Regions from separate parts of the Homo sapiens genome. Here all the other regions are linked to region 1. Evidence: fine-mapped expression QTL. A gene starts in region 1. Each other region holds a variant in brackets. All regions are shown on one strand. Distances are between the middles of the regions. Region 1 holds the start of PTGR2 (prostaglandin reductase 2). Region 2 overlaps ZNF410 (zinc finger protein 410). Region 3 overlaps ZNF410 (zinc finger protein 410). Region 4 overlaps LIN52 (lin-52 DREAM MuvB core complex component). Region 5 has its middle 16 kb from the start of LINC02274.

Region 1 (6,498 bases):
TTTTTAGTGGAGACAGGGTTTCACCATGTTGGCCAGGCTGGTCTCGAACTCCTGACCTCATGTGATCCGCCTGCCTCAGCCTCCCAAAGTGCTGGGATTACAGGCATGAGCCACCGAGCCCAGCCAGGTGTGGTTTTTATCTCTTACTTTGTTCTGTTATCTCTTTAGGATGTATGTTTGGGTTTGAATTTGTGTCATTATGAACAATTATCACCTCCATGGAAAAATGTTTTATTTAGCATCAAATAATCTTTGATGTTGCACTAAGTGTCATATACCATGCAGGTTGGTCAAACTTGAATGATTTCTCCTGAGTAATTTGCTATCATACGAGGTTATTTTCATTTAAAAATAATTTAATGAATGAAAAAACTAAAAAATAATTTAATGAATGAGTATACAAACATATTAGATTAAGTATTTATATTTATTTTATTTATTTATTTATTTCTGAGATGGAGTCTTGCTCTGTCGCCCAGGCTGGAGTGCAGTGGTGCAATCTCTGCTCACTGCAAGCTCTGCATCCCGGGTTCATGCCATTCTCCTGCCTCAGCCTCCTGAGTAGCTGGGACTATAGGCGCCCCCACCACGCTCAGCTAATTTTTTTGTATTTTTAGTAGAGACGGGGTTTCACCGTGTTACCCAGGATGGTCTTGATCTCCTGACCTTGTGATCCGCCCACGTCAGCCTCCCAAAGTGCTGGGATTACAGGCGTGAGTCACTGCGCTCGGCCAAGTATTTATATTTATTATGCATTTTTTTTTTTAAGAGACAGAATCTCATTCTGTTGCCCAGGCTGGAGTGCAGTGGTGCAAACACAGCTCACTGCAGCCTCGCCCTCCTGGGCTCAAGTGATCCTCACACCTCAGTCTGTCAAGCAGCTGAGACAACAGGCACACACATCACACCAGGCTAATTTTTAAAATTTTTTGTAGAGGTGGGTTTTGCCATGTTGCCTAGGCTGGTGTTGAACTCCTGGGCTCAATCGATCTTCCTACCTCTTGGCCTACCAAAGTTCTGGGATTACAGGTTTGAGCCACAGTGCCTGGCTTTTTTTTTTTTTTTTTTTCTTTTTTTGAGACAAAGTCTTACTCTGGCACCTAGGGTGGAATGTAGTGATGAGATCATAGCTAGCTGCAACTTGGAATTCCTGGGTTTAAGCGATCCTCCTGCCTCAGCCTCATGAGTAGCTGCTGGGACTGCAGGTGTGTGCCACCACACCTGGCTATTTTTTTTCTTTTTGTTTTTTTTTTTGGTTGTTGTTTGTTTTTTGTAGAGATAGGGGTCTCCTATGTTGCCCAGGCTGGTCTGAAACTTCTGGCCTCAAGTGATCCTCCTGTCTCGCCTCCCTAAGTGCTGGAATTATGAGTGTGAGCCACTGCACCTGGCCTATATTTATCATGCTTGAATGAAACAATATATACTATGTATTTTTTTTTGATAAGATGGAGATGAGAAGAATTGACACTTCCTTCTAGTGAAGTCTAGAAAATGATTCTCAGGGCTGGGCGTGGTGGCTCATGCCTTTAATCCCAGCACTTTGGGAGGCCAAGGCAGGTGGATCACCTGAGGTCAGGAGTTTGAGACCAGCCTGGCCGACATGATGAAACCCCATTTCTACTAAAAATACAAAAATTAGCTGGGTGTGGTGGCATGCACCTGTAGTTCCAGCTACTCAGTAGGCTCAATTGCTTGAACCCGGGAGGCAGAGGTTGCAGTAGGCCGAGATCGTGCCACTGCACTCCAGCCTGGGCGACAGAGAGAGACTCCGTCTCAAAAAAAAAAAAAAAAAAAAAGAAAAGAAAAAAGAAAAAAAAGAAAATGATTCTCAGGAATTGCTTGAACGATGAGAAGGAGGCAGTACAAAGTTCTGCAAAGAGGGAGGAGTAGGGAATTCCAGATTTATGGCAAATATAACAAAGGGTCAGGTGCTTGGACTCAGGCAGGATAACTTGCTCCTTTACTTATTAGTTACTTAACCTGACTTAGAACTTAACTAGCTTAACTTCGGTTTCCTCATTCGTAAAATGGTAATAATAATAATAGGGCTGTTTTGAAAATTAAATCATGTAGGCAAAAAATCATATAAGGCATTATCCAACTCAAACTACGCATTATGTAAATGATAGTAATCCTTGGTGTTAGAGAAAATTTAGAAGAAGAGGATAAACTGGATAGAAATGTACCTATAAATCCTCTACTCATCTCTTGAATTTTTGGGAACTCATTTTGGCGAGAAAAATCACACTTGTTACAAGGAGTTCACAGACCCTAGAATCAAGAGAGCTAAAACTAATTAATACACATACATATATTTAAAATTTTTGAGACAAGGTATCAGTCTGTCACCCAGGCTGGAGTGCAGTGGTGTGATCAAGGCTCGCTGCAGCCTACTGAGCAGCTGAGAGACTACCAGCAAGCACCACCACACCTAGCTAATTTCATTTTATTTTTTATTTTTTGAAGAAATGCGGTTTCACCACGTTGCCCAGGCTGGTCTCGAACTCCTGACTCAAGCAATCCACCTGCCTCTGCCTCCCAAAGGTCTGAGATTACAGGCGTGAGCCACTGCGTCCAGCCCCAAAACTAATTTAATATTGCAGGGCTTCTTTTCTATTTTGAAAGTGTTTCTTTTAAATCAAGTTCTAGATTACCTTTATTTTATACTACTACTTTTTGTCTATTTGAGCATTTTATTTTTCATCATTTGGTTTAAGTCATTACAAAAGGCATTGAAGGTCTGTCTACCTGTCCATGACAGATAAAAGAGATTAGCTCCTGTCTGAAAATGTTTGCAAAGTAGTGTAATTCTCCTAGTCCTTCCTGAAGCTTTCCCAAAGAAGCAAAAATATTCAGACATAAAGCTACCAGGAACTCCAACCTGTTTGATCACTATTCCCTTGCTCACCAACCTAGTCATCTTTCAGCTACTCCATGCATGACTTGTGCTGAGCTATTAGCTCCCACATGAATACAAGCAATTCTTATACCTGCCTAATTCAGATGATCTTTCTTAGGGTTTGAAGTCCCTGGGGATCCGAAGCTGTCCTAGGTATACACTTCTCTCAACCCAGTCCAGCACAAAAGGAGACGACTAACGATGAATGAAATTGAGAAATCAGCCCACACTGGTAATCTTGGAGGAATTTGGTATTCTTCGTGAAATAAAAGAGGCGCAAAGGGGCCCTGGATTAGGGTCCGGAGAGAGGGGTTTTATCCCAGCACTGCCCCTAACCAGCTGAAAGGTAGGTGGTCCAATCACATCAGCTCTCCGAGACTCAGTTTCCCCATCTATAAAACAAGGAGTAGGCTTGACGGTCCCTGTCTCACTATAATTTCCCAATCGAGGTTCAGGGAGAAATCCACAAAACTAATAAAACTTCTTCACGGACTGCTAAATGTGAACTCACTGGTCAAGGCTGCAAGATTTGCTCTTTGGGTCAAGGCAGTAGGGGCGGCCACAAGGAACCAATCTCAGTTAAGTTATTAATGCACTTTGCCCAGACTAGTAACTCTCCCCTGACGTTCCGCATTTCCCTTGCTTCTCCCGGAAACGTGGGGCGCCCAGGAATCCTAAACTTCCAATCCCTAAGCTTCCAAACCCCGCCCCTGGGAGGGGAGGGGGCGCGGAGCCGGGCCTAGTCGCGCGCCTGCGTACTGCGGTCAGAGGGCCGAGGCCTGGGGGCGAGCTGGGGTCGTGCAGTACAGCCTCTTTCCGGCAAATCACGCGAGATTTCGTTCACCCGGGCTCCACAGGGTCAGTGACGCGCGAGCGGCTCCCGCGACTGTGGCTCCCGAAGCTGCTTCGGGCCCCAGCGGTGAGGAAGAAGACTCTCAACCAGGGTGACTTCTAGGCGTCCTCCCGGAGCTACCGGGGACACTGGCGTTATTGCCCGCAACACTGAGATAGGGAATGCTCGAGAAACAGAAGCAGGTTTTGGGGTTTTTTTTGAATTACTGGGGGAAAGCAACCTGAGGTTTTGACGTAATTGTGTTTGAGGTGCCTCTGAAACTTTCATTTAACACAGATTTGTTGAGCACGTACCATGCGCCGGGCATAGGGGATTGGACTCACATTTTTTTGTGTGTGTGACGGAGTCTCGCTCTGTCTGTCGCCCAGGTTGGAGTGCAGTGGCGCGATCTCGGCTCACTGCAGCCTCCATCTCTCGGGTTCAAGCGATTCTCCTGCCTCAGCCTCCCGAGTAGCTGGGATTACTACTGCGCCCGGATAATTTTTTGTATTTTTGGTAGAGACGAGATTTCACCGTGTTAGCCAGGATGGTCTTGATCTCCTGACCTCGTGATCTGCCTGCCTCGGCCTCTCAGAGTGCTGGGATTACAGGCGTGAGCCATCGCGCCCGGCCTGGATTCACATCATTGAACAAAGCAGACGAGTCCTTATCCTCTTAGCGCTGACGAGCTGGGCAGTTAGTTTGAAATTCTGGGCTAGAGACGCAAATTATTATTAATTTCCATATAAAGTGGTTGGTAGGAGGAGCCACAGGGCTCAGGGAGGTCACTGAGAAAGGGAAGAGCAAGATAGGAATCTCCACATGCAAGACTTCGGGAGGGGAAGGGGGAGACCAGAAAACCGGAAGGGGAGGAGAAGACTGGCAGAGAGATCCAGAAAGACACGTGGTTTGTTTGTTTGTTTTTTGAGACAAAGTCTCGCTCTGTTGCCCAGGCTGGAGTGTCCTGGCTGGATCTCGGCTCACTGCAGCCTCAGTCTCCTGGGTTCAGGCAGTTCTCCAGCTTCAGCCTCCTGTGTAGCTGGGACTATAGGCGCCCACCACCACGCTTAATTTTTGTATTTTTAGTAGAGCGGGGTTTTCCCATGTTGGCCAGACTGGTCTCGAATTCCTGGCCTCAAGTGAGCCTCCCACCTCAGCCTCCCAAAGTGCTGGAATTACAGGTGTGAGCCACGGCTCTGGGCCCAGAAAGATACGTTTTATAACAAGGCGTGGTCAACAGGGTTGCTAGTGGCAGAATAATCGCACGAAATAAGGGTATTAAAAGGTATTAGGAAGCTCATGTGATGGAAATAGCAGGTGCCGTGTTGGAGTATGGGTTCTAGCGTTATTACAAGTTGGGCGACTCTGGGCGAATTATTCTCTTTCTGTACCTCTTTTTTCTTCTCTTTTTTCTTTTTTTTTGAGATGGAGTTTCGCTCTTGTCGCCCATGCTGGAGTGCAATGGCGTGATCTCGGCTCACTGCAACCTCCACCTCCCGGTTTAAAGCGATTCCCCAGCCTCAGCCTCCAGAGTAGCTGGGATTACAGGCGCCCGCCACCACGCCGGGCTGATTTTTGTATTTTTAGTAGAGGTGGGGTTTCGCCGTTTTGTCGGAGCTGGTCTCAAACTCCTGACCTCAAGTGATCTGCCCACCTCAGCTTCCCAAAGTGCTGGGATTACAGGCCTGAGCCACCATACCCGGCCCCTTTTCTCATCTATAAAATTGAGAGGATGATATTACCAACCTCACAGTTTTTTTGGGGTGAGGGTGGGGGAGGTGGTTTAAACAGGCTAGTGAATGAGTCTGTGCTCAGTTCCTGGCATTTAGGAATATTAAGGAAACAGGTTGAGAGAAGGGACTTTTTCCAAGTTCCCACCTGGTTAGAACTAGGAGAAGTACTCTGTTCTTCCTACTTAAATGACCTTTCCCTTTTACCAGGCTGCAAGGTAAACACTCAACACACTCTATCATCACATCGGAGCAAATTCGTCTGTTATTATTTTGGAATATTAGCACCAAGTAGGAATAGTATCCCAGGCAAATAGGATTTGCTGAGTTTTTTTCCCCTACTTGGGATGAATTTAACAATCTACCCTTCTTTCAGATCTTGGAACTTGATGTGTCTTATTTTAGCTGTTAATTTTATGACTAAATCTAGGTATCTATATTTTATTTATTTTTATTATTTATTTATTTTTTTGAGACAAAGTTTCGCTCTTGTCCCCCAGGCTTGAGTGCAATGGATCAGTTTCGGCTCACTGCAACCTCCGCTTCCCAGGTTCAAGTGATTCTCCTGCCTCAGCCTCCGGAGTAGCTGGGATTACAGGCACCCGCCACCACGCCTGGTTAATTTTTGTATTTTTAGTAGGGCAGAGTTTCACCATGTTGGCCAGGCTGGTCTCAAACTCCTGACCTCAAGTGATCCACCTGCCTCAGCCTCCCAAAGTGCTAGGATTACAGGTGTGAGCCACCGTGCCCAGCCAAGTTATCTATATTTGAAATGTGTGTTTTTTTGGTACTATTGAGGGATATCACACAATTATCCTATATTAATTGTAGTATTTGACACTTGAAAAGTTTCTAATTTAATGCAGAGTGAGAGAACTTTAATAGTATATTTTTCATGCTGATAAGCAGTGTTTGGACAAATCTATAATATACATATTAATATGTTAAACAAATAAAGCATACCATTGACAGTAATTAGAGGGCAAATATGATATTTCATTTGGAAAGACTGCTTTGAAAATTTAGCCATTATGGTT
Region 2 (6,498 bases), 78 kb after region 1:
GGCTGGTCCCAAACTCCTGACCTCAAGTGATCCACCCACCTCGGCCTCCCAAAGTGCTGGGATTACAGGCGTGAGCCACTGCGCCCGGCCAGGAATTGGGAGTTTTTGTCCTAAAGATTTTCCCACATTCTGGTTTTGGCTGATTGACTCCTTTTGTTAATATTAATTTCTCTATCCACTGTATTTCCTAAAAACTGGTAGTTACATTTAGAGGTTTGATTAGATTCAATTTTTCCCCCTTGGCAAGAATATTTCATAAATGGTGCTCTTGCTTCCTATTACATCTCATCAGGAGGCACATGACAATCAGTTGATCTTAAGATTGACTGGTAGGTTATGTAAAGGTTTTGGCAACCATTACTGATCATAGCCTAGATCTATTTTTCATTAAGGCCTGCAAAATGGTGATATCCTAATTCTCTTGTTCCCTCTGTGTTTATTATGATTTTTTTTTTTTTTGAGGTGGAGTCTTGCTATGTTGCCCAGGCTGGAGTGCAGTGGCACCATCTCGGCTCACTGCAACCTCTACCTCCCGAATTCAAGCGGTTCTTCTGCCTCAGCCTCCTGAGTAGCTGGGACCACAGGCAGGTGCCACCACGCCCGGCTGTATTTTTAGTAGAGACGGGGTTTCACCATGTTGGCTAGGCTGGTCTTGAACTCCTGACCTCAGGTGATCCACCCGCCTCAGCCTCCCAAACTGCTGGGATTACAGGCATGAGCCACTGCGCCCGGCCTAATTGTGATTCTTTTATACAAGAAATACTTCTCTCATCAACCATAGGGTTGCCCTGAAATCGTCATTTCAGGAAAACCATCTCGTTTTTCTTTTACCTAGTACACATTATTATTCGAGCAAGCCAACCCACAGCACCTAGCCTTTTCTTTTTTATATTTGAAACCTCAGAGCTTTTCTCTCCTGTATTGGTAAATATCTTTAAAATTCTCCACGTTACCCAAATAAATGCCAGATGTATGAAAATTTAATTCATTCAGCGGCTAGTTACCACATACCTAGTATGTGTGGGGCATTCTGCAGGGTACTAGTTATACAATAGTAAACAAAATATAGTCTCTGCCTCAAATAGCTTATAGGCAGAATTAGGACCTTCATAACTATATATATGGTGCTGGAGTTGCACTGTACAGTGAGGTTAGGATGGGAGAAGTGACCAATTAATCAACCGGCAATTTTTTTTTTTTTTTTAATTTTTTAGACGGAGTCTCACTCTGTTGCCCAGGCTGGAGTGCAGTGGCACAATCTCGGCCCACTGCAACCTCTACCTCCTGGGTTCAAGCAATTCTCATGTCTCAGACTCCTGAGTAGCTGGGATTACAGGCGGCCACCACCACACCCAGCTAATTTTTTGTATTTTTGATAGAGACGGGGTTTCATCATGTTGGCCAGGCTGGTCTCAAACTCCTGACCTTAGGTGATCCACCCGCCTCGGCCTCCCAAAGTGCTGGGATTACAGGCATGAGCCACTGCGCCCAGCCTAAACTGGCAGTTTTTAAGTGTAGTACGTTCCAGTCTTGGGAGAAGTCAGAGAATATGTTTTAGAGTTTAAGTTGAGATGGGAGGGATGAATAGACATCATCTTGATGGAGAAGTAGGAGTTGGAAGAATATAACAGGCAGAAGGACAGCAGTGTGTACAAAGGTAGAAGGTAAGGGAGTAGAGGGCCTCTGTGGAACTGTAAATAGGGTTGAGTGTGATGGGACATGGGATGAAGAGATGGGCTGGAGAGGAAAATTGAGAGCTGGAAAGATAAGCTAGTCTCTTGAAAGGTCTTACAAGGCATGATTTTATCCTGGGGGCACTGAAGAACCACTGCATGGTTTGAAGTAGGGTATGACGTGATCAGATTTGTGTATTCAGAATATCCAGTAATAGTACATTTGTTCCCTAGAACCTAGGCACAAGTCTTGGAATTGGCCTCAGAGCATCCATGTATAATAGGTGCTGCCCACTTACAGCCTCAGGGAGACAGCATAACACAGGCTGCCTAAAAAACGAAAGACCTGGGTGTGGTGGATCATGTCTATAATCCCAGCACTTTTGGAAGCTAAGGTGGGAGGATCACTTGAGGCCAGAAGTTCGAGACAAGCCTGGACAACAGAGCAAGATCCTGTCTCTACAAAAAGTTTTTTAAAAAATTATCCAGGCATAGTGGTGCATACCTGTAGTCCCAGCTACTCCAGAGGCTGAGGCAGGAGGATCAACTTGAGCCCAGGAGTTCGAGGCTGCAGTGAACTATGATTGTCCCACTGCACTCCAGCCTGGGAGAGATCCTATCCCAAAAATCAAACAAAAAAAGGAAGTATGGTCTTCACTCCAGGAAGGCACAAAACCCAGTTTCATAATGGAAGCCCAAAACACTTAGAAAAATATTAACAACACAAAAGGGAAAGTGCTGTCCTGGATGTAGCTCAAAATCCTGCACTGTCACTTTTTCCTCATGGGTTTTTGTATATTTACAAACATACCCTCTGTCTGAGCCTCACTTCTTTTGTGTTTTCTTCACTTTTAGCATTATTCTCCTCCTCGTATCACAGGCATTTCCACTGCTTATCCCCTCCTTTTCTTTCTTCACTAGTTTGGGTCCTCCAATACCTTCAGTTTTTTTTCAAGCTGTGAGGCCCTCAGGGTTCCAGGCTTAGGCCTCTTCCTCATCCAAGGTCTAGGTAATAACTTGCTATTTCTCCAGTGAGTGAGGAATGTTGATTCCTTAAGAACTTTCAGGTGCCAGAGAAGGTGAAGGCTATTTGCAACACATGTCCGTTTCACCTTTTTTGGAGATCACCAAGCAGTATGGATCAAAGTCTACTGATGAACTTGTACTTCCTGTAAATATGCTCTAAAAATAAAAATAGCT[T/C]ATCAAGAATATCAGAGAACAACCAAATCTGTTATCAGAAATTTTCATGAGAGGCTGGGTGCGGTGGCTAGCACTTTGGGAGGCTGGGGTGGGAGGATCAATTGAGCTTAGGAGTTTGAGACCAGCCTGGGCAACACAGGAAAACCCCATGTCTACAAAAAATAAAATAAAATTAGCTGGTCCTAGCTACTTGGGAGGCTGAGGTGAGAGGATCACTTGGGCCCAGGAAGTTGAGGCTGTAGTGAGCCATGATCTTGCCACTACACTGCAGTCTGGGTGACAGAGCCAAACTCTTTAAAAAAAAAAAAGAAGAAAAATTACCATGGGAAAAATATCAGAAACTACAAGTCACCTCTCTGGTTCAGGTGGACAATCTCTATTTTCCCTCATTATTGTGCCACATCTGAGAATTAGATGGAGGACTCATTGCACAGGCCCAACTGGGAACCCCAGGGCTTTTGGGCTGTCATACTTACTAAAGGTCATTCTAAATGGGGCTCCATATTTACATTGAGTTCACATTCTTGAACTCAAGAACCAGTATAAGAGATTCCCAGCTAGTTTTGACTACCTCTTAGAATGCTTTCCAAATCAAGGCACAAATAGAAATTACAAATTCTATAATATTTCTCATAAAGTACCTTTGCTAAGTTTGACTGCAAAGATCTGGATCTTGGCCTCCATTAAAAACACACTATTCTTAACTTTCCTGCCACACAGCATCAAATGGAATATGTGGTTTCTTTAAGGTTTAATTTTTTCTTTAGATTTTGTTTAAAAGTCTTTAAATTCCATATAATTAAACTCTTAAAAAAAAGTTTTTTTGGTGGATACAGTGTCTTACCATGTTGCCCAGGCTGATCTCAAATTTCTGGCCTCAAGCAATCCTCCTCCCTCAGCCTCCCAAAGTGGTGGGGTTATAGGCATGAGCCATGGTGCCCAGCCCAATCATTAAATTCTACTGTATAAATTACCTTCATCCAAATTAGGATCACCAAGTAAATACATCTCAAGCTGAAGAATTTATTTGATTAGATTTTAATAAGTTGTTTTTGTTCTGAATTTTACTGAATTGTTCCCATCTCATTTTTGTGTGTCTGAAAACAGTCTCAGTCTGTCACTCAGGCTGGAGTGCAGTGCAGTGGCATGATCATAGCTCACTGCACCCTTGAACTCCTGGGCTCAAGTGATCCTCCTCCCTCAGCCTCCCAAGTAGCTAGGACTGCAAGCATGTACCACCATGCTTAATTTTTAAAATTTTCTTGTAGAGACAGGGCCTCACTGTGTTGCCCAAGTGGGTCTCAAATTTCTGGTCTCAAGCAGTTCTCCTGCCTCAGCCTCCCAAAGTGCTGGGATTACAGATGTGAGCCACTGCACCCAGCCTCATTTTGTTTTTATATTAAAATGGAAGCCAATTTCATTATTTCAAAACTCCTTTGAATAGAGCCTTGTGTATAGAGTAGAATGTTAGTGGTAGTTGCCATTATGCAGGAGTCCCTTAGGCTTATCATTCTTTTAAGCCCAAGGAACCCCTAGATCTTTTATGAGTGGGTTTCAGCTCTCATATAGTACTTATAAAGGAACAGCTCCTCTTCCTATTTCCTTCTCCTACTTGAGCCTTCAGCCTATCCTTTGGCTGACACGTATAAGATTTTGGTTCCACCATTTCTGTTTTCCCTGTAAGTTAGAGATTCCTCTGTCACTGACTGATGAGTAGGTAACTACACAAACAATAGTTTGGCTTATAGACTCAGAATATTTGATTGCCAGAGTTAAAATGCCAGCCTTATGACATGGCTAAAGTGCTGTCCCAAGGCCACAGTGACATCTATCAGTCCGTGCATGTGTTTGCTTTGGAAGTAGATAGCCTTCATTCACCCCTGTAGTGCATTCTCCATCCTCCACTCTTAATACTTTTTACTATGAATTATTTTTTCTATAATTCAACTGTAACCTATTCTAGATTTGCTTTCAATCTTTTACAGTTACTAAACCAAGGAGATTTAACTGAAAGACGGACATGAGCGTGGGTGCTGACTCCTGGAAGAGCAACTCTATCTGATCTCAAAATGCGTATACTGGGAACAGGATGCCTTAGCCCACAACAGAACCAGAATGAATCTTTGAAGGCACAAGACTCTGCTTTTGCCACTCTTCCTCTTTCCTGGTATAGAAGATGGATGTAGGAGAGCTTCTTTTCTAACTACCATCTGATCAGACAAGGAATGAAGCAATGACTGTGGGCTGGGAAACTGTACCTACCTCTCTTCCCACTGCAAATTTCTGGGATAGACCAAAAGTGAATTTGATTATGTGTTGGCTGAAGTTCTTCATTCTGACTGTTGAGGGGAGGTTTTCCTTTGAAGAGTTTTCATCCCAGACTCAGCTGTCTTTTCACATGGATGAAATAATTCCTGCTACCAACAACAGAGCTTCACCAGGAAGTTGAGTTTTCAAGATGCCTTGTTGCTTTGAAGAAGGGAGTGATGTCAATTCTCTTGTTACATTCTCCCTTTAGCAACCTGAGTAAGAGACTCTCTGCCACTGGGCTGCAAAAAAATAAATTACTTGAATCTCCCCTTGGCCCAGGCTGAGGTACTATCTTGTCCTATACACTTCTACTTGGTCACTTTGCTTTCTTCGTTAATGGAACATACAGTAGCATGTTAAGAGGGATTTCATGTTTTTGTTTTTTTAAAGTTAAAAATTACATGATGCAGAGATTCAGGTTTTCCTTTAAATAAACAAAACAGCCCAGTCAGTTCTTTGGCTCTTGTTTTATACAAAATTTGTTTTCTTAGAGATTAAGAATTTAATCTTTCCCTTTAAAATAGTGTATTGATTTACCCTTAGGATTCCATACCAGTAAAACTGAACCGAGGAGTCTTAGGAAACAACAAGAACATCTTCATTTCTTAAGCCCAGGTGATAGTTACTCTGTCACCACCAAAAAAGACGCATCTGAGAAAATGGCAATAAAAACAGATACTTCTGAATTTTTCCACAAAGATAGTTTTTTTAAAAAAGCTTGAGAAAGGTGCTTTAGTTAGAGCAGGCACTCTTGCTATCAGTCATCCTGTCTCCACAGCTACTGAGAAAATATCCACTCATCATCATTATGATTTGAGATGGGGTCTTGCTCTGTCACCCAGGCTGGAGTGCAGTAGTGTAATCATAGCTCAATGTAACCTTGAACTCCTACGCTCAAGGCATCCTCCCACCTCAGCCTCCTGAATAGCTAGGACTATAGGCATGTACCACCAGTCCAGCTAACTTTTTGTGGTTTTTTTGGTAGAAATGAGGTCTGTGTTGCCCAGGCTGGTCTTGAACGCCTGGCTTCAAGCGATCCTCCTGCCTTGGCCCCTCAAAGTGCTGGGATTACAAGCATGAACCACTGCACCGAGCCAGAATATCCAATTATTATTGGTGAGAAGAAAATTATTCCAAAGTTCACCTACTAGTAGAAAATCTTGGTTGTCTGGGAAATTTTAAGTTTACTTAAAATGAACCTCATGCTCACATAAACACACAGGCACATTCTAAACAGATAACGGGAGAGAATTGTTTTAAATTCTTAATTTGTTAATGACATGCATAATCACATAGTACATAGACTGTGTTCATG
Region 3 (6,498 bases), 39 kb after region 1:
TTTTAGGGGCGATGTTCTTGCTCCTTTGCTTGGTTTTGGGGGTAGGGATATAGGAACAGACTGTCCTGAGAAAGCCAGAGTCAGCGAGTCCCCGGGGCGGGGGCTCTTGGACTGCACCCGCAGCCGGGGCCTGCCTACGGACCTTGGGGCCTTATTTCTGAGGCCTTTGTGGTGTGGGGTAGAGGATGCCAGGAGGCCTTGCCCTGAATGTTTCAGTCCAGAGCTACCCTCTCCTTTCATACCACTTACTTTCTGGGTTTGGAAAAGGGACAGCTGCCTACTCGGCTGGGCTGGGTCGCCCGTTTCTCCTTTGCCTGTCAGTTCGGGGGGCAGGAGTGTGTGGATTGTTTACGGCCTTCATACATTTCGTGTCGAATTTATTTTCTGAAGTTTCTCAAGATAATCCAATTTATTAAAGTTTATCCCACTTGATCATGAGGCTCAGAAATGCATTTAGGCACCATTTGGAAGTTAAATATTATTAACTTGGGACTTAAGAATTAGTACTTAGGTTGGAACGAAGGTCAACGCAGCATATTTGCAATAAATAAAAAACATTTGGAAATAAAGTCGGGCATTTTGTTAGGGAGTGAGAAATTGCACTTGGTTTTTTCTTAGTGTGGTGCAGAGTAAAAGACAACTAAAGTAGCAGTCAGAAGTTTTAAGTTCTAGTTTTTTACGTTTTGCATCTAAGTAGATGTCTAATTTTTGGCAAGTTGCTGAATCTCTAGCTCTGGGGAGTTTTTCTGTAAACGAAGGGGTTTACCTTTAGGGCTATGACAATTTTTCCGAGGCACTGAACTTTGAGTAGAAGTGACATAAGCATTTCTTTGTTTTGGAAAGATAACTTGAATGGCTGCATAAAGGATGTATTGGAAAGAGGAATTTTAAACGCGGGGTGACCAGTTAGAGGCCTGTTTTAATAGTATAGTAGAAAGTTACTGAGAGACCTAAACAGGGCATTACAGTAGGGAACAGAGAACATTCTGGGAACAGAGAATCACGGGAATTATTTAAAAATGGAGAATGAGAGAGATTTAAAGACCTAGAATTTGCAGCTGAGTGGGAGGAAGATTGGGCGATCATTGAAATAGGTAATACAAGAAGAACAGGTTTGGTAAGGAAGATAATAATCTGGATTTTGGACATTGTTAGGTTTGAGATGCTGTTGGATATACATGTGGAGATACCTAGCAAGCAGTTAGAAATGAAGGTTTGGAGTTCAGAAGAGATGACTAGAGAAAAATGTAGGTATCATTTGTAGTGTCATTCATTCATTATACAAATATTTAGTACCTACCAGTTGCTTACTGGGAAGCTTGTATGGAAGCCCTTTAAGCTCATAGTAAACACATTAGAAGTGGGAAGTGACCGTTAATGGGCACAGGGTTTCCTTGTGAGGTGATGAAATATTGTAAAATTGATCGTGGTTCTGCTTGTACAACTCTGAATGAACTAAAGATATTTTAATTGTACTCTTTAAATGAGTCAATAGTATGGTATGTGAACGATATCTTAGTGAAACTAATTTTTAAAAAAGATTTACATTGCAGTTTTGGAAATCTGTTGAGTAAGGAATTGGGAATAGGAATGTTTAATTGTGTATTTGCCGTTACACCTATAGCTAATGTACATAGTACGTTGCTCTGTTAAAGATGAGATCCCCACAGTACACTTGATAAGATACTGAGTGCTCTAGTACAAATTCTTTTGAGTTCAGTTGCATATCTTAATGCATCCTGCTATTTTTTATTTTATTCATACCGTACACATACAAATCATAAACTTGGACACAAAAATTGTATGGTAGTACTTAGTTATAATATGAATACCCAGTGCTTGAGAAAATGCTCGTGTTAATTTTTAAAGATTATTGAAGTGAAAACACTGAAATAAAAAGATGTCATAGATAACATAAAAAGGACAGTAAATAGTTGTCTGGTTCCTCAGAGATTTTACAATCCTGGAATCTCAAAGTTGGAGGAACCTTAAGGATGACTTAAACAACAAACATCTGATAATTTCTTGGCTTGTTAAGACAAGCTGGAATTGGGGAAGAGGAATTCTTGTTTTTTTTGAGACAGCCTCCATTTGTTACCCAGGCTGGAGTGCAGTGGCGTGATCACTGTTCAGTGCAGCCTCGATCTCCTGGGCTAAAGCAATCCTCCTACTCAGCCTCCCTAGTAGCTAGGACCACAGGCATGTGCCACCATGTGATGCTAATTGAAAAATTTTTTTTTGTAGAAATAGAGTCTCACTGGCTGAGATCGCGCCACTGCACTCCAGCCTGCGTGACAGAGCGAGACTCAGTCTCAAAAAAAAAAAAAAAAAAAAAAGAAATAGGGTCTCACTGTGTTGCCTAGGCTGAGAAAAGGAATTCTTAGGCCATGGAGATTCAGGGTCAAACCTAGAGAGATGTAATCACTATTCACGCCAATGATTTCTGCATACTTCTGGTGTGGGTGGGAGTCCTGGCTTTGCAACTTAATAACTTGGTAATTAAGTAATATACTGAGCCTTGGTTCCTTCCTCTCTAAATAGAGGGATGGATAAACCATATGAAACTGTTGCAGTGCTTGAATAAGAAAAATATGTGTGGAAGAAAAGTCAGGGATTTATGATACTTTATGTGGGAAACTTGGAAGGAGCATTTCCATTTATATCTTGTAAATGGTTAGTTTT[T/G]TTTTTTTTTTTCTCGACACAGAGTCTTGCTCTGTCGCCCGGGCTGGAGTACAGTGGAGCGATCTCGGCTCACTGCAATCTCCATCTCCTAGGTCCAAGCGATTCCCCTACCTCAGCCTCCTGAGTAGCTGGGTCTGCAGGCACATGCCACCACACCTAGCTAATTTTTTGTATTTTAGTTGAGACGGAGTTGCACCATGTTGGCCAGGATGGTCTCAATCTCCTGACCTTGTGTTCCGCCTGCCTCGGCCTCCCAAAATGCTGGGATTACAGGCGTGAGCCACTGCTCCCGGCCTAAATGGTTACTTTTTTACAATGAAAAATGAGGATTTCAGGTAGCTTAGAAAGAGAGAGGGAGAAACCAACAGGACAAAAAAACATTTATTCAGTTACTTTTTTTTTTTTTTGAGATGGAGTCTTGCTCTGTCGCCCAGGCTGGAGTACAGTGACGCAGTCTCAGCTCACTGCAACCTCCATCTCTCGGGTTCAAGCGATTCTCCTGCCACAGCCTCCCGAGTAGCTGGGATTACAGGCACCCGCCACATGCCCGGCTAATTTTTGTATTTTTAGTAGAGACGGGGTTTCGCCATATTGGCCAGGCTGGTCTTGAACTCCTGACCTCAGGTGACCCACCCGCCTCGGCCTCCCAAAGTGCTGGGTTTACAGGCGTGAGCCACCGTGCCCAGCCTAAGTGCCCTCTTTGTAAAGTCTGTCTTGTTCTACCTTTCCACACTACCTGGTATTAATTGGAAACTTTAAAGTACCCATTGATTGAAAATATACCCATCCTGGATACATTTTACACTGTATGATTATTTGTAATAGTGCTCCCAATTTTAGTAACAATTGTACAAAATAAAATGGACTCACATTCCAAAATCCTGAAAAGAAACTAAGCTATAAGAAAGTAAGAATTTAAGTTATAGGGAGTGGCTGGGCGCAGTGGCTCACACCTGTAATCTCAGCACTTTGGGAGGCCACGGCAGGCGGATCACCTGAAGTTGGGAGTTCGAGACCAGCCTGACCAACATGGAGAAACCGTCTCTACTAAAAATACAAAATTAGCCAGGTGTGGTGTCTCATGCCTGTAATCCCAGCTACTCCAGGAGTCTGAGGCAGAATTGCTTGAACCTGGGAGGCAGAGGTTGTGGTGAGCTGAGATCGTGCCATTGTGCTCCAGCCTGGGCAACAAGAGCAAAACTCCATCTCTAAATAAATAAATAAAAGAGAGAGAACAGCCGCATCAGGGTCCTGAGAGCACTACCTTTGGGAAACGCTCTTCAAATTTTAACTTTTTTTTTTTTAAATGTAATTTTAAAAATTATCAAAACAATATGGTTGCCTTTTAGAAATATTGGAAAATTGAGAAAAGAAAATTAAGTCACACCAGCCTACCACACGGTATAGCTACGGTCATAGCTGTATGAATCTCCTTTTACTTTTTCTGATGCTTATTATAACTAGTTTTAATAATAGCAAGTATATAATTTTGTATTTTATTTTTATAATTTAACATGTCAGTCACTTGTTGTTGCATTGTCTTCATAGCATTTGTTTGTTGGTTTGTTTTTTGAGATAGAGTCTTGCTCTGTCGCCCAGGCTGGAGTGCAGTGGTCTGACCTTGGCTCACTGCAACCTCCACCTCCTGGGTTCAAGGGATTCTCCTGCCTCAGTCTCCCGAGTAGCTGGGATTACAGGTGCCTGCGACCATGCTCAGCTAATTTTTGTATTTTTAGTAGAGAGGGGGTTTCACTATGTTGGCCAGGCTGGTCTCGAACTATTGACCTCAAGTGATCCACCTGCTTCAGCCTATCAAAGTGCTGGGATTACAGTTGTAAGCCACCACACCCAACCCTTCACAGCATATTTTGAAGTGACAGTGCCATATTTAATCAACCATTCCCTAATTGGGGGTGTGTGTGTGTGTATACATTGCTTCCAGTTGTTTATTACATAGGATAAGACGGACATCTTTGGACATAGCTCTATCCATATTTAAGATAGTTTTTTAGATTATTAGAGGTTGAAATACTGCATCAAAGCGTAGTATTTTTATGGGTTTTGATGCCTGTTGAGCTTGTTGTATTTTAAAAGAAGTGTTTCGGTTTGAATTCTTTATTTGCTTGCTTGTTGTGATTTTTTTTGTATATGTAAAGAAGTGTCTTTATGTACCTGTGTTTTCCCACTGCTCTTAATGCCCCCTCTCTCTTTTTTACCCCTATTCTAGGTTACATTGATTACCCACCTAGTACAACATCTTACGGGAAGAGCATAGTATTTCCTAGAGGAATATGAACATAACAGGAAGGTATCATTGGCTCTGAATTAAATTTGAACTTGTCCCCTGAATAGCTACAGGTTTTGGAAGCTGAATCAATGTTATCAGATGAGTTAGAATCCAAACCAGAGGTGAGCCCAGTCAGCTTGTTTCCTTTTCTTTTGGTGGGCTATATTTCAAAGTTTATCTTCAGTTTAGGGGGTCAGCAAACTTTTTCTTTAATGGGCCAGATAATAAATATTTTAGGTTTTTTAAGCTATATGGTTTTGATTGTTACTATTTTTTCAAAGATTTAAAAATTATATTTTTTGTGATTGTTTTTATATCTGTTTTTCAGTATATGTGAAATCATACATTTAGATAATGTAATAAAATCTTATAAATAAAAATATATGTTTATGTATAAATATATACATAAATATGAGATACATGTGATGTATAGGTGTATAAGTATATAAATATTTACTACTACAAATTCTTTTGTTTATTTTATATATATCTGTAAGTATTTTCTTTCTAAATGTGATTGGGGATTTAAACATTTTTTGTTGTTCACTTTTCTTACTTTAAATTTAGCACATCTGTGTTGCAGAGTGGTCACTGAATTTGGAATCAGATTACTTAAATTTGAGGATTGGCATTGCTCCTAACTAGTCTTGTGACCTTAGACAAGTCACTTAATGTCTTCAATTTTATTCCTCAGCTGTAAAATATGCCTTAAGTTTGGGTGCGGTGGCTCACGCCTGTAATCCCAGCACTTTGGGAGGCCGAGGCAGGTGGATCATGAGGTCAGGAGTTCAAGACCATCCTGCCTAACATGGTGAAACCCTGTCTCTACTAAAAATACAAAAAAAATTAGCTGGGCGTGGTGGCGGGCACCTGTAGTCCCAGCTACTTGGGAGGCTGAGGCAGGAGAATGGCGTGAACCCAGGAGGTGGAGCTTGCAGTGAGCCAAGATCATGCCACTGCACTCCAGCCTGGGCAACAGAGCAAGACTCTGTCTCAAAAAAAAATACATCTTAAATCTTACTGGGTTAATGCGATAATTAAATGAGCCAGTACACAGAAAAGTGTTTTGTAAAATGTAATCAATATGATGCAGTTGATTTTTTTTAAGCCATTATTTTAAAATGTAATTATTTTTATCATTTCTCTGTTTGACAGAAGGTGGCAGAGGTTAACTTAATTACAGTGAAGTGTCACTTAGCGATAGAGATACATTCTGAGAAATATGATGGTAGTTGATATCATTATTATGCGAACATGGTAGAGTATACTTACACAAACCTGTATGGTTTAGCCTGCTACACTCTAGGCTGTATGGTATACCTTATTGCCCCTAGGCTGCAAACCTATACAGCATGTTACTGTACTGAATACTGTAGGCAGTTGAAGCACAGTGGTAAACATTGTGTATCTAAACATATCTAAACGTGGAAAAAGTACAATAAAAATAGGATATTACAATCTCACAGGACCATCATCCTATATGTGGTCTGTTAACTGAAATGTCGTTTTGCAGCACATGACTTTATATA
Region 4 (6,498 bases), 350 kb after region 1:
TAGGTTAGTTGGTGATGATTGAATCTGTTGTGATAGCAACTTGATATATAATTTAAATCAATCTGCATTTTTAAATTAAATCTTCCTATGATTCTTTTTTCCGATTTTAGGTTTTCATTGATCATTTGTTTGCTTTGTGATTCCAGCCAGAGAGATGACACGGGGGAAATTCCTCAATATTCTAGAGAAGCCCAAGAAGTAGCAGCTGCTTGCGGACAGGATGTCCTGGGGTCCGAAACCAAGCTCCCTTCCCGGTGCACCTCTAACAATGCACACCTCACTGCTTGCTTGGGAGAGGCCAGAGGGTGTACCTCCAGGACTGCCCTCTCCCCTGCTCCTGGCACTCTACACGTCTGAGGACATTCAGCAGCAAGAGAAGAATCTGCTCTACCCAAGGATCATTGCAGTTACTCAATCAACTTTCAGACTTGAACCTTCTTAGCCTCGGATATTGGTAACAGCTGAGGGCATATCATTCTTAAAGGTCGAAGTCCTGCTTTCTCATTTCTGGAAGTGATTCAGGAGCCCCAGGATCTTACGGTTGATTTGACTCAGTCATGGCAGTCAGTTGTGACATGTTGATTGGATGGGTTCTTTTGAATTGTTCTTGATCTCTTAGAAAGTGTTTACGATGTGAGGAGACCAGAGACCAAGTAGATTCTGGACCAGACCATGCAGCCTGACCTGTGAACTCTCCAGTATATACTAAGTTCCCAGAATCCCCAGCTGAAGAAACCAGAATCTTCTCGAAATGTATATCTGTTTTTTAAAACTTCTATACCTCTTATGATAGTCCCATTTGCTTTTCATTCCTTACTTCCCAGCCCCACCTTCTAGTTCTGACTTCGGGCAGAGGGATCCCTGAGTCCCTCCTGGAATTAGCTTGTATAGTGAAAGGCCCATCCAAGGTTGTCTAAAGACCAATGTGAAGGTGACAGAAAGGACTTTTGAGTTCTAATTAATCTGTTACAGCTTCAAGCAAGAAAGTCAGTATAGCCTGAAAGACAAGAGAAACGGGATGGTTTATAGGAGTTCCCATTTGGTTGAAAGCTAGAAGCCCTAATTGACCTTAAAGTAACATGCTATGGGATGGTGGGATTGTCCCCTCTGACAGCACATATGAAATAGTTCATCTATATAATAGAAACGCACACACACGAAAAAGAATCTTCTGACTTAAATACAACTTTCATGGAGTTCTTCACCACTTATCTGTCTCTGTTAAAATCTGAAAATCTAGCCCATGGCTAAAATCTATTATATGTGTTCTCCATATTTCTTGTATAAGCCAGTCCCCAGCATCTGATGTTTTGAGAAGTGCATGGAGTTTCCTAAACTTTGCACAAAAGAATATCCTGGGGCCGGGCATGGTGGCTCACGCCTGTAATCCCAGCACTTTGGGAGGCCGAGGCAGGTGGATCATAGGTCAAAAGATCGAGACCATCCTGGCCAATATGGTGAAACCCTGTCTCTACTAAAATACAAAAATTAGCTGGGCATGATGGTGCATGCCTATAGTCCCAGCTACTTGGGGGCCTGAGGCACGAGAATCGCTTGAATTCGGGAGGTGGAGGTTGCAGTGAGCCGAAATTATGCCACTGCACTCCAGCCTGGGCAACAGAGTGAGACTCTGTCTCAGAAAAAAAAAAAAAAAAAAAAAAAAAAAAAGAATATCCCTGTGGCAATAGTCTGATGGTGTTTGGACACAAGAAAAGTTATGGTTTTGAGTCGTGAGTGTTTGCTAGGGCATGGCACTCTTCAGTTTAACAGCTGATCCATTAAACCTTTTCTGACATTTGTGCCTTGTTCTCATGCTAGAATTAATGCTGGATTTTTCTCTCATTTGACCATCAATGTAGTTTTACTTATTGAAAGGAAAAAAGACTTAACACAAGATAGGAAAGATGAGTATGAGAAGTAAAACATTCTGCTGGGGTGCTACATAGAAGGTTAGGTTGTAGGGGCTTTGATTTTAATTTAAACTTATTATCGATTGATATTTCTGTATCTCACTAAATGCGGTTGAAGAGTGTGTGTGTGTGTGTGCGCGCGCGCATGTGGCCAAAAAATAGTGCCATAATGTCAAATTCTTCCTTTGCTCTGTTTTTGAGAGTTGATGACATCAGGCACTTTTCAGTGTTTGGGGAAATTGATTGGGATACCTCCCCCAAACCAACTCAAGTCTGTAACTGGAAGCCAGGTGGTTGGTTTTCTGGTCCGCTTTGTCCTCTTTCTTTTACCGTCATCCTATTCACCAGCACTTAATGTAAGTAGATGTTTTAGAATTGCAATATTTATTGGTTTAGTATTTGTCATCCTTAGAAATGTTAATGATGTATTTTTATATTGATAATATAAATTTATGTACAGTATGTGTGTATATGTATTTCAGGATGTTATAGTATTGTACTTTGTATGTGATGGTTTTTGTGTCTTCATAATAAATATGTCCCTTTTACAGGAGGGTGAGTTTTTCCTCAGAGGGCCGAGTTGGATATTTAAAGCACAGACCTCCCCAGAAAGTACAACTGTAATGATAAATAATCTACTGTTTTCCCCCTTAATATACTTAATGGATAGTTGGGGGCTTTACAGTCATCTACTTGGTCTCCTGCCTTCCATTCTATCCTACCACTGCCCAACACCCGAAAGTAGTATTTAGAAACCCTTAATACCTTCCCGTGTCTACTAATAAAGTCTCAATCTCTTGACCCGGCATTTTAAGACTCTCTACATGTAATCCTAAGCAACCCTTCCGTTTCGTTTTCTTCCTCTCCTATATATGAAGTCTC[T/G]GTTGCAGTTACTCTGAACAGTTCCCAGTTTCTCACTTGAGTGCCTTTGCTCCTGCCTTTGAGTTCCTAGAAGGTCTTGGATCCCTTTTGCATCTGGCAAACCTATGCTTCCTATAATCTCCTGATGATCCAGCTGGAAATGGTCCTTCCCCTACATTCCTATAGCATTTACCCATATCATCCCTGTGACTCTTACCATAGTCTGCCTTATATTTAAGTGGTCTGAGTACTTTTTCTTTTTGAGACAGAGTCTCACTCTGTTGCCCAGGCTGGAGTGCAGTGGTGCAATTTTGGCTCACTGCAACCTCTGCCTCCCGGGTTCAAGCGATTCTCTGCCTCAGCCACCCTAGTAGCTGGGATTACAGGTGCATGCCACCACGCCCAGCTAATTTTTGTATTTTTAGTAGAGACGGGTTTTTGCCAAGTTGGCCAGGCTGGTCTCGAACTCCTGGCCTCAAGTGATCCTCCCGCCTCGGCCTCCCAAAGTGCTGGGATTACAGGTGTGAGCCACTACGCCTGACACTGAGTACATATCTTATTGCCCTACTAAATTCAAAGCTTCTCAAGGTATAGCTGTCTCCTGCACATCTAGTTCTTCAGTGTCTTTGAACTAGGGGTTCAAAACCTGTTTGCTTGCAGGCTTCTGGTTACACATGATAGATTGAAAACAAGTATTTATCTGCCATCTTCTAAATCCCTTAGTGTGGGTTCCTTTTCAACCATGTTCAAGAACTAGAAAAGAGGAAGTACTCATTATTGCTACTGCTATCACTCATTGATAGTTTACCTGCTCTGGACCAGAATATGCCCTTTTAAAGAAAGCATTTCATTTTAAGGAAAGCAAATTGCTTCTCATCATAGGCCCATCATTTATTTCCAAAAAAGACATCTGGATGAACAGTAGATTTCTGTGATCTAGAAAAGCATGGCTGATTGACTAAGTAGGGACAGTGTTAGGAGTGTTCTAAGTCTTTAGAGACTATTTTTACGGTAAGTAATTGTTTATTATTTGCCTACAGATATTTTTTCCCTTTTCCTTTGCCATTCCAAATACCATCCTGTAAAGCATCTGTCAGCTGTGAGCAGCAACATTCTGAAAAGCATAGTATTGGAGCTTGGAGACACATTTGCAAATTCTTATTGACATTTTTTTCTTACCAGCACTCTCATTATTTCTTGCTGTCTTCAGTCTCACAGATTCTAGGCCTCTGCTGATTTGCTTGGCCTGCCTTCCATAGGTTAGAACACTTAAAGTTCACAGGGTATTAATTGTGTTGATATTGAAATGCCATCATTCATTTTTATCTTTCCATTTTTGTCATATTTTTTAAATGGATGCTTGCTAACTGCTCCGTGGTTTTAGTTCTCTAGCTGCTCTTCTGGATGCTCCCAGATCAAGGCAGTGAAAATGGAACTGATGAAAGTCATTCCCTTGTCCCTGTGGCTTCAGAAGTGTGTTTGGACTTCCACAGGAGCTTTGAAATGAAGCCGAGAAATTTCATTTCCAGTGGGATTCCCTGACCCCTCCTGTTTCCTCCAGGATTAAGACATCACAAGAAGGTGAACAGGCAGAGCAGGAAGTGAGGAAATGGACAGTTGGGCCAAGGTGGATGGTCGCAGAAGCCAAATAACACAGTCTCTTACCAGTTCTCAGCTTCTGCACTAACTCCGTCTCCAAGAATTTGGTTATGTTCTCCATTTTCTGTTTTCTTCATCTCGTGAGAGCTACAAGGATACCTGGTCCCTATGTGGGCTTTGTTTCACCAGAGAGTCTTGCAACCCCCAACCCCAGAGAGTGGCAAAGGGTGGTGTCTCCACGGTTGTAAGTTCTGATGGACTGGAACTGATTTTTCCTATCTATGTAGGCTTTTTGGCATTTGGGGTGTGTGTCCTTGTCTATGCCTAAAGAGGCCACTGGCCTTCCCACCCTTTGCCTGGCGCTTTTTCCTCTCGAGCAGCTGGGGGCTTCAGACGATACCAGGTGTAACTGTGAGGCTCCTGGTTGGCGTGAGTGCTGGCAAAGCCTGTTAATTAGCACAGAAACACCCCAGTGCTCCATTAGCTGGGCCAGGCATTTGGAACCTTCCCCTCCTGTGGGCCCCTTCCTCCTAATGAGAGCTGGAAGAAGGGCCCTCACAAAACACTGCCTCAGAATAATATTCTGCTTTGTCCCCACCAGTAACCAGGGCTGACAGGATCACTCTGTCCATTTCTCTTCTAATTAGCACAATTCCAGCATGGCCTGAGCCAGCAAATAGAGAAAAGCGATCAAAAGCGATCGGACAACCGTACCGAATCACAAACACAAAGAGGGCCATTCCCTGTAATTAGGTGAGACAATTCCTCAGTCTTTTCTCGGCTGGAGTTTGCCGCTAAGACTCTTGCTGTTTGGGTCCCAGCAACACAAGTTACATGTCTCCCTGGGACACTAATAAGCCCCAAATTGTCTTCCGCTTCACACAACTCTACCCAGAGGACAGACATGGGGTGGTGGGGCAGGTGGCGGGGAGGGGGTGGGGCAGTGCAGTGAGGGGACGGGTCTCCCAACAAGCAGCTGCTGCAATGTTTCCCCAACTTCAAGAAGCAGACACTGGGGCTGTGGGCAGAGAGGTAAGAGTCAGTTGGCTTGAGAGAACTGCTCTTGGCACAGCCTGGCCCCTGTCACTTGAGCTGGAGTCTGAAGCACTGAGAATTTCTGACCCTCAGGGGAAGCCCCCTCTCAGCTATTTGCCCTACTCTGTTCATTCGCTGCCTCCTGTCTATGGCCCCCTCACTCCTCCCACCTCTGCAGACTGGTAGCATCACTCCAGGAACTACATTGAGCCCTTCACAAACTGTAAGCCCTACACAACTATAGTTACCATTGCAAAGAAAGCTAACACACAGCACGTGAGTGAATTCTGCCCTAGAAGACTGCATGACCTGGAAGGGGCACCCACTGCCCCCCTCACTCTGGCCTTCATTTCTAGCACCCATCACCTTTATGTCCCTGATTGTGTCCCCAACCCCTGCCTACTATCTCCTCTCTCCTGAAAGATCCCTGTTTTTTTAAAACAGAAAAGTGGCCCATCTGCCAGGGCAAGAAGCTGTAACTGGCCGCGCTCCATGTGGCTCAGAGGTTGGTCACTTAATGAACAAAAACAGCTCCCCCAGGATTGCAGCCCATTACGGGGATTACTTGGGGCGATACAGCCGTAAACTTGGTCATAGCCAGGGACAAAGGAATGCAGGGGAGAGTGGCAGTTGGAATCTCAATTAAACCCAAGTTCGGAGCAGAATTGGGCTCACATATTTTCATCTCTCTCTTGCCCTCTGCTTTCTGTCTCGATCTCTATACCTGATGTTTCTGAAAGTGACCTCCAATACCAAAGGAGATTCAGTTATGTAGAATCTGAGGAGCCAAAAAACTCAAGTAATCAGAGTTGCATTGTTTTTCTACCTTCAGTTTTCTGAGGCACAGAGAGGATAATGATAAGATTTGACTTTTAAAAATAACTTTTGGGACATGCCAAAGAATTGATCCAAATTTGTTCAATTTCCTACAGTTTCTTTGGTTATAAACAGAACTACCTGGCACATAATAGGTGCTAAAATAAGCATTTGTTGAAAGAATGAACTGTGCCTTGACATTCGGTGTTCATAGCCTCATTGCTGGTCTAAGATATAGTAAGTGCTTGGATTTTGAGAGAGAGGCAGGGGTGATCTT
Region 5 (6,498 bases), 37 kb before region 1:
ACTGTTCCACTGAAACTTCCCTTGTAAAGGTCACCAGCAACTTATACGTTGCAAAATCTAATGGGTCTACCTCTGCCATCGTAAAACTTGACCCTTCAGTAGCATTTGACACAGTTGACCACTTCCTCCTTCTTGAGGCATTCTTCCTTCTTCGTTTTAACGATGATACTCTCTCCTGGTTTTCCTCTACCTCTATGGCTATAGAGATAGACTCTTCTCAGTCTCCTTGGCAGGCTTCTCCTTTACCTGACCATTAGTGTTGGGGTACTTTAGGGCTTGGTTCTGAAATAGCATCTAGTCGCTGTCTAAAGCTCTCAAAATGATCTCATCTACTCCAGAGCTCTAAATACCACCAAAATACTGATGACCCCCAATTTTACATCTCCATGCCTGAGCCCAGACTCATCCATCCTCCTCTTGCTTTATGTCTCCACCTGGCTAACAGGCACTTCCAATCATGCATTTCCACAATCGAGCTCTTCATTCTCTTTATCCTCAAAATCTCTCCCTCTCCTCTCCCCTCCCTTTCACCCCTTTAGCTTCTTTATCCATCTATTTGCACAGGGCAAATTCTAGAAGTCATTTTTCATTCTTCCTTTTCCCTCATCCCACACATCCAGCCCATCACCATGTTTAGTCAGTTATATTAAATACCTCTTGTCTCTACCTCACTTTTCTTTACATTTCCGCAGACACATTCTTAGTCTAAGCCACCCTCATTTTTCCCCTGGACAACTGAAAAAGCCTCTTTAGTGGCCTCCCTGCTTCACAACAGTCCCTCCCAAATACATTCTCCACCAGAAGTGAGAATGAACACTTCAAAAATGTAATTTGGGGCCAGGTGCAGCGGCTCATGCCTGTCATCCCAGCACTTTGGGAGGCCGAGGCGGGCAGATCACTTGAAGTCAGGAGTTCGAGACCAGCCTGGCCAACATGGCGAAACCCTGTCTCTACTAAAAATACAAAAATTTGCGGGGCATGGTGGCAGTCCTAGCTACTCGGGAGGCTGAGGCATGAGAATCACGTGAATCCAGGAGGCGGAGGTTGCAGTGAGCCAAGATCGCACCACTGCACCCCAGCCTGGGCAACAGAACAAGGCGCTGTCTCAAAAAAAAAAAAAAAAGTAATTTGGTGATATATAGTCATTGTCTCATTAAAGGGGTATTTATTGAGTGTCTGCTATTGTGCTATGTATCAGACAGTGAACAAGTCTCTGCTCTTGAGAAGCTTACAGTCTCATGCTGAGAGACAAGCAATAAACATAATTAAATTCATATGTTAGAAGGTGATAACCGCATGGAAAAAAGTAGATCAGGTAAGGGGATCTCAGGGAACATAGGTCTATGTGTTTGTTGCAGGGGGTTGTAATTTTAAATTGGGGAGTAGGAAATGTTTGATCTCTAAATATCATTTCCTACTAAAAGAGTTCCTAAGAGAAATGTCTAATTCCATGCCAGAGCTAAGAAATGCTTAAGATGATTCTGGAACATCTTGTTACACCAGAAAGCAAAGAACCTAACAAAGACCGTTGGGGTGGCATCAAAAGGACCCAATAGCCAAGTTCAAGAGACTCTCATTGGCCAAATATGGAACAATTTGAGTGTCTGAAAGAATAACAACTGCAATGGGTCAAAATATATACATGTCAAAATACCTGAGTTCGGCCTGGCGTGGTGGCTCACACCTGTAATCCCAGCACTTTGGGAGGCTGAGGCAGGCAGATCACCAGGTCAGGAGATCGAGACCATCCTGGCTAACATGGTGAAACCCTGTCTCTACTAAAAATACAAAAATTAGCCGGGCATGGTGGCGGGCACCTGTAGTCCCAGCTACTTGGGACTACAGAATGGTGTGAACCCGGGAGGCAGAGGTTGCAGTGAGCCGAGATCGCACCACTGCACTCCAGCCTGGGCTACAGAGTGAGACCCCGTCTCAAAAAAAAAAAAAACGAAAAAAATCTGAGATCATAATGATACTTTTAAAGTCAAGAACACAACCCATTGGTCACTTTTGGCAAGTTCTAAGGAACCAATTAATTATTCTGAAAACTGGTAAAGAAAAGGACAGAGTTAAGCATGTAGCCTGCTTTCTCTGTATGAAAATAACCAAGGAATCCAAATAGTTGACAAGGAAAAGTTCCTCTTTATAGACATATTCCAGCTAAGAAATGAAGAAAAAAGATAGAATTAGAATATCATCATTTTACAGCCTCTAGGGAAATAATCAGTCTAGGCCATGATCATCAACAGCTTCTAACATCGCAAAAAGAGCGAGAGCCAGATATTCAGCTCCTGACGAATGGACACAATACATCTTGTGAAGTAGTTTGGGTTTCCAGATAAAACACACAATGTTTAGTTAAATTTGGATTTCAAATAAATATCAAATAAATTTTAGTATAAATATATCCCAAACGTTCCATGAGACATACATATGCTGAAAAATGTTCAAGGACCAGGCTGGGCATGGTGGCACACACCTGTAATCCTAGCACTTTGGGAGGCCGAGGTGGGCGGATCACGAGGTCAGGAGATCGAGACCATCCTGGCCAACATGGTGAAACCCCGTCTCTACTAAAAATATAAAAATTAGCTGGGTGTAGTGGCACGTGCCTGTAATCCCAGCTACTCAGGAGGCTGAGGCAGGAGAATCGCTTGAACCAGGGACTTGGAGGTTGCAGTGAGCTGAGATCACGCCACTGCACTCCAGCCTGGGCAACAGGGTGAGACTTTGTCTGCCCCCACCCCCCCAAAAAAAAAGTTCAGGGACCGGGCGCGGTGACTCACACCTATAATCCCAGCATTTTGGGAGGTCGAGGCAGGCAGATTGCTTGAGCCCAGGAGTTCAAGACCAGCCTGGGCAACATACCAAGACCTCACCTTTACAAAAAATTAAAAAAGTAGC[C/T]GGGCGAGGTGGTGCGCACCTGTGGTCCCAGCTTCCTGGGAGGCTGAGGTGGGAGGATCGCTTGAGCCTGGGAGGCAGAGGTTGCGGTGAGCCGAGATCGCCACTGCACTCCTGCCTGGGCAATACAGCAAGACTCTATTAAAAAAAAAAAAAAAAGCTCATTATCTGAAATTAAAACTTAACTGGGCATCTTGTATTTTTATTTACTAAGCCTGGCAACCCTAAAAGTAGTGTGGCCAAAATAATCACACGTGAACCCACTTTAACCTCAAAATCTAACTACTACGAAATACAGCAATATTGTGATCAGCAACATTCAGACTGTGAGAAACTTTGTCCTGCAGAACAGACCAGTCAACTTTTTCAACACGTAGAAAAAGAGAGAGAGAAAAAGAGACGGAATTTGGTTTAGATTCTGATTCAGTAAATCAAGGGTAGGTGCAGCCACTACAAAAATTAGTCTGGCTTCTGAGAATCGCCCTTCCTCTGACTCCAGGCTTCCCCTGGGCTTTCACGTCATAGTGCAGCAACACCAAACCACTTTGAATTGAGGCCCCTTAGAGGCAATCTTGAGAGATGCTTGGGGCCAAGTCTTGTTTCACTAAACCAGGTTACAAGTGGAGGGGTGATGTGAGGAGGGGAGAAAAAGCTAAGATCTTAGTTTTTGGGATGGGATGAGATGAGAGCTGAGGTGCAGCAACTGCAATGGGAGAGGGCACTTTGGGGAAGGAAGCAGAGATGTTTTTAAAAGGCGATGATTGGGAAGTTTTGTTGGTGATGTGTGATGTCTGCCCCTCCTTTTCCTGCTCATGCCTTTGGAGCGGGTAATTTGGATGCTGGGCTGGATCTACAGGGCTTAGAAGTGTGGTTGAAGGCTGAGTGTGGTGGCTCACGCCTGTAATCCTAGCGCTTTGGGAGGCCAAGGTAAGTGGATCACTTGAGGTCAAGAGTTCGAGACCAGCCTAGCTAACATGATGAAACCCTGTCTCTACTAAAAATACAAAAATTAGCTGGGCATAGTGGCACAGGCCTGTAGTTTCAGCTACCCGGGAGGCTGAGGCAGGAGAATCACTTGAACCTGTGAGGCAGAGGTTGCAGTGAGCCAAGATCCTGCCACCGCACTCCAGCCTGGGCGACAGAGCAAGACTCCATCTCAAAAAAAAAAAAAACCATGCCAGGTGCAGTGGCTCATGCCTGTAATCCCAGCACTTTGGGAGGCCGAGGCAGGCGGATCACGAGGTCAGGAGTTCGAGACCACCCTGGCCAACATGGTGAAACCCGGTCTCTACTAAAAATATAAAAATTAGCTGAGCATGGTGGCGGGCGCCTGTAATCCCAGCTACTTGGGAGGCTGAGGCAGGAGAATTGCTTGAACCCAGGAGGCAGAGGGTGCAGTGGGCCGAGATCGTGCCATTACACTCCAGCCTGGGCAACAGAGCAAGACTCCGACTCAATCAAAAAAAAAAAAAAAAAAAGAGGAAGAAGGGTGGACGAAGAAGTCATGGCTACCTTCAGGCCATATCACACCAGATTCTATTTAGATCTGTCTCCCTGCCATGAACCCCTCAAGGGCACAGACTGTGTTTCCAGCTTCAGATTTCCTATTGCCTATTAAAGTGTCTGTCACTTCATACATATCTGGTGAATAAATGAATGAATGAATGAGTGAATAAAGCCTCCTGATTTGCAGAGATGGTGGTCTTCTGATATAACAAATTGTGCTCATCAGATATACAATTGCCTTATGGAACACTGAATTTAACCTTTGCTATGTCCACACACCAGGAAGGAATATTCTAGACTTAGCAACTAGGCTCAGGCTGGGCATTGTGGCTCACACTTGTAACCCCAGCACTTGCAGAAGCTGGCATGGGAGAATCACTTGAGCCCAGGAGTTTGAGAACAGCCTGGGCCACATGGCGAGACCTTGTCTCTACAAAAAATAAAAAATTAGCCGGGTGTGGTGGCATGTGCCTGTAGTCCCAGAAACTTGGGAGGCTGAGGTGGGAGGATGGCTTGAGTCTGGGAGGTTGAAGCTGCAGTGAGTCGTGGTTGTGCCACTGCACTCCTGCCTAGGCAATAGGGCAAGACCCTGTCTCAAAAAAGAAAAAGAAGAAAAGAAAGAAAGAAAGGAAAGGAAGGAAGGAAGGAAAGAAGGAAGGAAGGCGAAGGAAGGAGAAGGAAAGAGAAGGAAAGGAAAAGAAAGAAAGAAAGGAAAGAAAAGAAAAGAAAAAATGCACAGAACATATTTGGACAATTTAACAAATAATTACAAAGCAGCTCTCTGTGTAACCAACACTTGCGTCAAGAAATAGTAATGACCGGGTATGGCAGTTCATGCCTGTTATCCCAACACTTGGGGAGGCCGAAGTGGGAGGATTGCTTGAGCCCAGGAGTTAAAGACTGCAGTGAATTATGATTGCACCACTGCACTCCAGCCTGGGTGGCAGAGCGAGACCCTGTCTCAAGAAAAGAAAAAGAGAGAGAGAGAGGGAGGGAGGAAGGGAGAGAGAGAGAGAGAGAGAGAGAAAAGAAAAGAAAAGAAGGAAAGTAGGTTCAGTTCACTGGGTCAGAAGCCCTGGAGTCACTTTCCCAGGCATCTTGAGACGCTTTCCTATGTGAATGGAAAGCCCAGCTTGCTTTCTGTTTTCTCTTGCAGTTCAGCTTTGTGAGTGTCTGTAGTGTATGTGTCTTGTGATGTGTTATGGGAGCTGTGATGAGGCTTACATCACAACCAGAAGATGACCTTGGAAGGAGAACCCTGGACAAGGCAGGAAAAATAATGAGGGCAATCAAGAGTCTGGAAAGCCCTGGCAGCTATGAAAGGTTTGAGCCATGCACCAGTCACCATCTGTGTACTCAAGAGAAAGAAAGAAGAGATGAAAGATACCGCTCCCTTCACCCCGCGCCTCTATCTAGAGGAAAGAATAACACAAAGAAAAAAAAACATGAGAGAAAGGCTGCCTCTTGAGAACCCTGGGCTTGACTTAAAAGGTTCTCCTTCTATGACCATGACGTAATAAGTCATTTTTTATATCTGAATAACATTGTTCTTCTACAGCATCATCTTATGAGCTATAAATGTATCCCGTTGATACTGCCACTAAAATATTTTGGGTTTTTTTTCCTGAGGTTTTTAGAGGAAAAAATCAGGACTTAATCTTTTTTTTTCCTGCTTAATCATACATTTTATTCCTCAGACATGGTTCAGAAGGACTCTGGATGGTCCAAAAACTCATATTCGCCTGCAAAGGTGGAGGTTGTAACCACCGGGAACATGCTATGAGTTAGGCAGACATTATTCAGTGAGGAGGCCTAGAAAGGCATAGAGGCGGCAGCAGCACAGGTGCAGTAATGAGAAGGCGCCCCAGGCTGCAGACTCCGTGAGGGCAGAGACCATCCACCATTGACACACAGTAGGTGTGCTGTAAAGTTTGTTGAATGAATAAATGAAAGAAAGAGAAAGACTATCACATATATGGAAGTGTAAGTTCTTCAGTGTCTTTTAAAAACTAGAAAAAAGGGCTGGGTGCAGTGGCTCATGTCTGTTATCTCCCTTAACAGGAGGATTGCTTGAGGCCAGGAGCTTAAGAC

The links.
Region 2: its variant is fine-mapped to the expression of PTGR2 in whole blood (TOPMed, PIP above 0.99).
Region 3: its variant is fine-mapped to the expression of PTGR2 in lung (TOPMed, PIP 0.92).
Region 4: its variant is fine-mapped to the expression of PTGR2 in skeletal muscle (GTEx, PIP 0.98).
Region 5: its variant is fine-mapped to the expression of PTGR2 in whole blood (TOPMed, PIP above 0.99).

The regions. Positions count from the first base shown.
Region 1 is chr14:73,848,187-73,854,684 of GRCh38, forward strand. PTGR2 (prostaglandin reductase 2) reads left to right here and starts at 3,645. Exons shown (of 10, transcript NM_001146154.2): 1 at 3,645-3,757. RefSeq lists a silencer at 3,379-3,781 and an enhancer at 3,391-3,440.
Region 2 is chr14:73,926,645-73,933,142 of GRCh38, forward strand. ZNF410 (zinc finger protein 410) reads left to right here. Exons shown (of 12, transcript NM_021188.3): 12 at 4,859-5,877. The coding sequence ends at 4,897. FAM161B (FAM161 centrosomal protein B) reads right to left here. Exons shown (of 9, transcript NM_152445.3): 9 at 5,632-6,498. Among named protein-coding and RNA genes, the nearest start is that of FAM161B, 20 kb to the right of the region's middle. The variant T/C (reference allele first, on the strand shown) is at 2,874.
Region 3 is chr14:73,887,118-73,893,615 of GRCh38, forward strand. It overlaps ZNF410 (zinc finger protein 410), which reads left to right. Exons shown (of 12, transcript NM_021188.3): 2 at 4,910-5,091. The coding sequence starts at 5,059. Among named protein-coding and RNA genes, the nearest start is that of ZNF410, 3.5 kb to the left of the region's middle. The variant T/G (reference allele first, on the strand shown) is at 2,683.
Region 4 is chr14:74,198,776-74,205,273 of GRCh38, forward strand. It overlaps LIN52 (lin-52 DREAM MuvB core complex component), which reads left to right. Exons shown (of 6, transcript NM_001024674.3): 6 at 147-2,718. The coding sequence ends at 202. Among named protein-coding and RNA genes, the nearest start is that of VSX2, 37 kb to the right of the region's middle. RefSeq lists a silencer at 3,398-3,598. The variant T/G (reference allele first, on the strand shown) is at 2,793.
Region 5 is chr14:73,810,953-73,817,450 of GRCh38, forward strand. No RefSeq gene overlaps it. Among named protein-coding and RNA genes, the nearest start is that of LINC02274, 16 kb to the right of the region's middle. The variant C/T (reference allele first, on the strand shown) is at 2,905.